2 linked regions of the Homo sapiens genome follow. The protein of the gene in region 2 interacts with the protein of the main gene of each other region in a pairwise test. Each region holds a gene or a part of one and is shown on either strand. Other genes may lie near its edges.

Region 1 (3,826 bases), on a different chromosome or scaffold from region 2:
GCGGTCACAGAGATGATCCCCGTGTCAGTCCCTGGGAGCAGGGAGCAGCCAGTTACACTGGTTCCAAGCACAGGTGGAGACCATCCACGGGGACCTTGGGCCCCTTCTCCTGGAGGAAGGGCAGAAGGAAAGCTGGACTCAATGCAGCACCATGGAGGAGCCCTCAGGGTCACACCTGCTGTTAATGCTTTAAAGTGCCAAGCTGTATCGTCTTTGGTCAGGAGCTGCCCCTTAGTCTCTAAGAGCCTGGGGTCCAGGGCTCAAACCCCCGCCTGCTGGGCCCTGAGGAAGCAGAGCAGGAGGACACATTCCCCTTCTGCGGCTGTGGGTGCTCTCCTGTGCTGGGGGGTGGGGGGAAAAATCACTGAAATCCAACAGCTTTCAGGAAGCAGGATGCCCCCAGGGAAATTTGGGTCCTTAGAAAGAGAGAAGGGACTAGAAATGCTTTGGTCACAGTCCTGATACCCACAGCCAGGGCAGAGCTTGCTCCAGGAGAGCAAGCGGGAGCCGATTACAGCACTGCACATGTCACGCAGCAGGAGACGTGCCTGACGCAGACTGGCTTCTGAGCATAAGCCAGAAGTCACTGAATAAATATTCAAGGCATCTTTTGGTTCTCAGAGAAAGAGCAGGGCTTAAAAGAAAAATCTCTCCCCTGCCTGACTGGCTGCAGCTCTGATCTTCAGGCTGACAATGCTGAGGGCTGGGAGAGGTGGCAGGCGGGCCCCAGAACTGGCTCCCCCGCAGCAGGTGGCTTTGGTCCATCACGTGTCAGGGCCGCTTGTGTCCGGCTGGCCCCGGGCCCTCAGAAGCTGAAGAGGTCATCCTGCTCTGTGCCGCTGCTGTCAGGCTTGTCCCAGTCGACAGGCGAGAGGCACTGGGCGTAATGCATGTCCTGGGCTGTCAGGCCAGTGTCCAGGACCTGAGGGTTTGTCCGAGACTGGGCAAGCCTGGAAGGCAGAGCTGTGTGAGCCGAGAGCCTGGGTGAGGGCTGGCGCGCCCCAGGGTCAGACGCGAGGGGGCACCAGTGGGGAACAGCAGGGCACATGGCCCAAGAAGGAAGCCCCCGGTGCAGGGGAGGTGGAGTAACCTCAGATCAAAGCACCTCCCCTTGAGAGTCAAACAGCTCAGAAAAGTCAGGGGCAGCCAGCGGTGCACCCACCCCCGGGAGAGGCCAGAGCACCCACTCTGTGCCCCAGCTCAGTCAGGACATGCCCAGGAAAGAGGAGAAGGGGCTGGTAAAGGGAGCAGCGGGGGTGGGGGTGGGGTGGGGAACAAGCTGTGGGAGGGAACACGGAAGATTCTTTGGCTATAACTGTGTCAACACCGTGCTGTTCGAAAAATAAATTTACAAAGGGAGACAACCTACATGTCCAAAAGAATAGGGGAGAGTCAAGTAAATTATAGCAGCTTCCCTTAAGAGAATGTTAGGCAGTCAATGGAAGAGGTGTTTACGAGGAGCTTTTAACAGCCTGGAGCAATGCTTCTGACACATCGCTGTTAAGTGAAAAATCAGGATCCCAAAATGCAAATACGATGAGCTGATCAATGCAAAATAATGTATATGTATAGGATTAGCATGAATTAAGCCCAAAACTCTGGGCTGTGGGATTACAGGATGGTGTTACTTTCTGTTTAATGCTTTGCTGATTTTCAAAATTGTTAATAAAGGGCACATGATGCTCAAAATAATGTGGAGAAAGCAAACAAAAGATTTTCTTCAGAGGGCAGGTGTCGTCAGCCAGTGAGGCAGGGAAGGTGTCACTGTCGCCCTCGCCCCAGGCTGGACCAAGGGGTTTCCACTAGTCCCTGGCAAGAAGGAGGCAAGGAAGAGGAAGGAGGAGGCAGGAGGGCAAAGACCCTGACTCTGTCCCCACCCGCTGGACCAAAAATCGCTGACTCCAACCCCAAACAAAGCCCCTGATGTGGGAGGGCTGTAGGAGGCTGCTGAGGGTCTCAAGTGAGAAAGGGAGGCCTGACAGACGGGGACCCAGGGCTCGGAACCCTGACCTGCCCAGGCCTCTCCTCAGCCACAGCCTTCTCAGTGGCATGTCCCCAAGCTGCAGGGGGCCACAAGGATGGCCCCTGGGAAAACGGGGAAATGCCACCAAAGGCTATACCAAAACACCTCCTCACTGTGCCTGACCTTCCCTGCTATGGAACGCTTCACGAGCTTCATTAAACACTTTCTCCCTTCCCCTGTTCATAAACACAGACCTGTGGAGGGAGCAAAGCCTGTAAAAAAAAAAAAAAGCCCATTTTTGAAGGCCACGCCTCCTCAAGTCGGAGGAAATCAACTTGAGCTGCAGTGTGTTTCGCTCACCTCAGACTGCGGCAGAGCAGCCACCAGGAATAGTTTTTGACTCAACAGTAAGAACTTTCTAACAGCTCTGGACAACGCTGGAAGGGGTTTCCTCCCCAGTGAGCTCCCTGCCCCTGGAAGCATTTGAGTGGAGGGATGGGACTGTTGCTCTGGAGGGGGTCTGAGTGGCTTGTGTTCTTAATCAGGGGAAAGGTCCCCAGGAGAAAGGGCAGCAGGGCCAGCCCACGCACACCAGGCCCCCTACCCAGCACAGGAAGCTAGCATTACCTCGAAAACGCTTCATCCAGGCCATCATCCAGCTCCTTGGGGAAAACAAAGCAGGAGATAAGAACTATGTTTGGGGGAGCCCATGCTCACAGCTGGGGCTTGTCCCAGCCCTGGGTAAGCTACAGGGACTCAGGACACAAGCTCAGGGTGGGCGCCTGGAGGCACGGCCTCAGGCAGGCCTCCTGCCTGGGTGCATCGCCAGCATCTCAGCCCAAGGACCCAAAGCTGGAGACGTGGGAGAGGAGAAAGGCCATGTCCCAGGGTGTCTGGAGACCCAGGTGGGTTCAGTGCCCTGGTCCATGCTACCTGCCCGTGAGACCTTGGGCAAGTCACTGCTCCACGTTGAAACTCAGCTTTTCCTTCAATAAGAGGAGGGCATTGGACCTGATGACTTCTATGGCTTTCAAATTCCAAAAGGAAGAGGGTGGGGAAGGGAGTTTTCTTGCCTTCATTTACTTCCAAAAGCCAAGCCAAAATTCCAAGTTCATGAGGGATAACTGATGCCAGGAGTCCCACAGCCTCAGCAGAAAAGCGACAGGTGAGGTCCCTCCATGGCCTTCTGGTGAGGATGGGCAAGTGGCAAGGGTGGTTCCCAAACAGCAGAGAACAGGCTCGAGGGACACCAGGGGAGCCCCCAGTACCCAGATTTTTAAAAATTAAAGAGACGACAAGTTAACATGTGATTCTGCAATGGATCCTGGGCCAGAAACAGGACACTGAAGGGGCACCTGGAGAAATGTGTAAGTTCTATAGATTATATAACAGCACAGTATCGTGTTTGTTTCCTGATTCTGACCAGTGTAATGTGGTCATGCAAGATGTTAACAATTGGGGAATCTGGATGACGGGTGAACAGGAATTCTCTGTACTAATTTTGTAACACAGTCTGAAATTATTTCCAAATGAAAAATTAAAATTAAATTTCAGGTTCCTCGGGGAGATTCCGTTGGCAGAGGTCATCACCCTTACTGAGATGAAAAAGCTGAGACAGAGAGGTCAGGGGGCTTGCCCTGAGTCCCTGAGGGAGTCAGGGACCAAGCTGGTGACTGCCCAAGTCTCTGGGTCCTCATTCAGGCGGCTGAGGGGGAGGGGTGGTAGGAGCGAGCTCTGCCACACCAAGAACAAGGGCGCCTTTGGCTGGTCTTGTGGTGGGCAGAGCCGTGGACGCTCAGGCCAAGAGGCCAAGCATTGTGAGGAGACAGCTGTGCTGGGAGCCAAGCCTGTTGGGGATGCAGC
Region 2 (2,900 bases):
ACTACATCTTTCCTAATCCAGTACCCATATATTCAAACCAATTTGTCCAATTTCATTTTCCAACAGTTAGTGGGTAGATTTAGTATGTGAATGAGGACCCGGGAAAACTTTCATATGAAAGCTTCGTGTCAGCTCTAGAAATCACCACCTCCTGGCCAGTGTATTCTCACTTATTAATTATATATTTTATATATAATGAATTCATTATCAAGTGTGGGTGAAAGGAGGGGAACTCTATCATGTAATTGCTGTAAACTTGTGGTCAGCAAAAACACAGAGAAAACTGACACATGAGTTAGTGTATTCTACTTTCCAGGTCAGTTTTATGAATTTTAAAAATTTGAACTGCCTGTCAGTATTTTATTTCAAAATGATCTGGATTTTGGTTATAAATCAGCAATATATATTAGTCTAAATGTCATGAAATTTGATGATAGGATAACAACAAAAGAGCTACACAAGTTTAATATGTTTGTTAATTTCTCAGTTATTTTTTGGTAGCATAATGCAATATCCTTTTATCTTAAACATTTTAATCATTAATGAATTTTAAAATCATGAGCAAAATAATCATTATTTTAACTTGAATGCATTTAATTTAAGTTTTTAATACATGTACAAGATCTTAACAAATAAGCATAAATCAAAAATATCAGAAAGAATAAACTACATGGTCATGATGACATTAATTTTTTGAAATTACTGATTGTCAAGTTCGAGTTTTTCATTTTTAATTCATTAATCATTTCCTGAAGTTTGAAGTTAAATGTTTCAGGAGTTATTTCCATAACTTCTAGAGCTAGATTCCGAATGATCTCTATATACATTAGATTTTTCTGTACAAAGATAACCTGTAAAAGATACAAAATGATTACATGTAAACTCTTGCAAATTTTTTAAAGTACCTTTTGGCAATATATGGCTCATAATTTTATTTCATTTCCTTTCTACTAATTTAATGGTAAAATCATAAATTATACAAAGAAAAGTAAGCATGGCATGTCATTCATAGAATTATTGGCAATACCATTTGGCAATACCTGACTTACCAACTTTACTTCACGTTCTTTCTATGAATTTGGTGATAAAATAATAAATTATGCAAGAAAAATATATATAAAATGTCATTGTTATATTATTGGCAATAACTAATAATAACACTATATATCTATTAAACAGAATAAATTGGATCAACTCATTTTTGGGAAAAAGCTCCAAGAAAAATTTTCACAGAATGAAGAAGACTTGGTCTGCTACTGATTGTGTGAAGGGAAGCTGCCTACTGACAGAGAATGCTGCACTAGAACCAAAGGAAAAACTTCAATTGTATGAAGTCTATAAAGTGTTTGGATGTTTTTGTTACTCTAACTGATGCAGAGGTTTTTTTTAAACATAGGTTTAATTTATTCATGTTTAATTTACTCCATTTTTATCTTTCAGACTTGATGTTTTTGCTTTGAAAAACGTTTTAAATTTGGCTCAATGCTTCAGTTCATGTATGGCAAATGGGAATGATATAGTCACTTTCAAACTGGTAGATAAAGAACCCTCTGTTTTTTTTACCTCACTAGAAGATCCAGCATTTGAAGGGCTAGAATAAAACCCTTCTTCCATGACTAATAGTATTGGATCAAGGGAACTCAAGTAAGCCAAATTGCTAGTAATTTCATTAATCATGGCAGGTTTTCTTTTGAAATGTCTTCATTTTCTTTAAATATAAGAGCAAAGTAGAAAGTTTTTTTTTTTAAATGATCTGATGAGCAAAATAAGGAATATATATCGGTATGTAGAACAAAACAAAAGTGTTTCAGTTGGTTTGCCAACTTCAAGTTTCAACATGGTCTCCAGATGAAAGGACAGACCATGAGTAAGAAGATTAAAATGTGTGCTCATTAAATGGTTCTATATATCAAGAGTGATTATTGCTAAAGAAATAGAATGGATACCCACAGGGAAATCTTTATTTTTGGAGTGCTGTAATGTTTATATCACTGATTTAATTATTATTTCTTCCTCTATTTGTTCAACATAATACTGATTTTTAAAAGTATCCTTTTAAGGTTCTTACCTATAGATTTATCCACATTGTCAAGCATATTTAGAAGAACCAGGACTACATTCTGAAAAGCAGTAAAGTCACTGATGAAAGGGGCTACATCAGTATTAAGAAGAATTCGTGGTGGCATGCCCTTCTGGAACTTATATGATCTAATCAAGGTTGTAGGAAAGAGGACTGCAGCTAAATGATCCACAGCCAGTACCCAACTTCTCTCAAAATGCGCTTCTGCTTTAGAATAATAATCATATCTAAAAGACAAACGGAAAAGTATTTAATTATAATTAGTCACCTCAGAAGTTCAAGCTCATTGCCTTCAGAAAATATTGGTTCTTGCCAACAAACTAAATTCATAATTTTATAATTTAGAAAATAGGCTTGATATTGTGATGACTTTATTCCATCCCTCAGGAGGTGTGAAGTTGGCTCATTAAAATTCTAAATCTAGGAAGAATCATCTCACTAATTGTTTACATTTTACATTGCATTTTATCTTCTTTAATTCAGCACATTATACTTGAATACCACCTAATAACCAAAAGTAAGGCATTTTTAAATCATACTCTTTGCCAATGTAGAGATAAATATCAAAGGTCTAAAGCAAAATTTTTGCTAGACTCAAATATCCTTTGTGAAACTGTTGATTTCTTAAAGCCAGGGATCCCAGAAACATTGAGATTTCTAGAAAAATAATATCTAGATCTAAATTGTAAATAATTGGCATTCTTCTACCACAGGAAGCCTCAGGTAGAAAAAAAGCCTCTGTAATTGTTAGAAAAGACTCTGTAATTATTAGAAAAGCCTCTGTAACTATTTGTCCCCATAATAGGTGAGAAAGTTTAGT

The links.
Region 1: the proteins of C6orf58 (region 2) and LDLRAP1 interact in a two-hybrid assay, tested with the Homo sapiens proteins (one large-scale study listed by BioGRID and IntAct).

The regions. Positions count from the first base shown.
Region 1 is NC_000001.11:25,563,972-25,567,797, reverse strand, and holds part of LDLRAP1 (low density lipoprotein receptor adapter protein 1), read right to left. Parts: intron 2,626-3,826; coding exon 2,591-2,625; intron 2,437-2,590; coding exon of another isoform or gene 2,382-2,436; exon of another isoform or gene 951-2,381; coding exon 806-950; 3' UTR 1-805. UniProt on the Homo sapiens protein: Adapter protein (clathrin-associated sorting protein (CLASP)) required for efficient endocytosis of the LDL receptor (LDLR) in polarized cells such as hepatocytes and lymphocytes, but not in non-polarized cells (fibroblasts).
Region 2 is NC_000006.12:127,589,494-127,592,393, reverse strand, and holds the end of C6orf58 (protein LEG1 homolog precursor), read right to left. Parts: intron 2,308-2,900; coding exon 2,069-2,307; intron 852-2,068; coding exon 772-851; 3' UTR 574-771; downstream 1-573. UniProt on the Homo sapiens protein: May be involved in early liver development.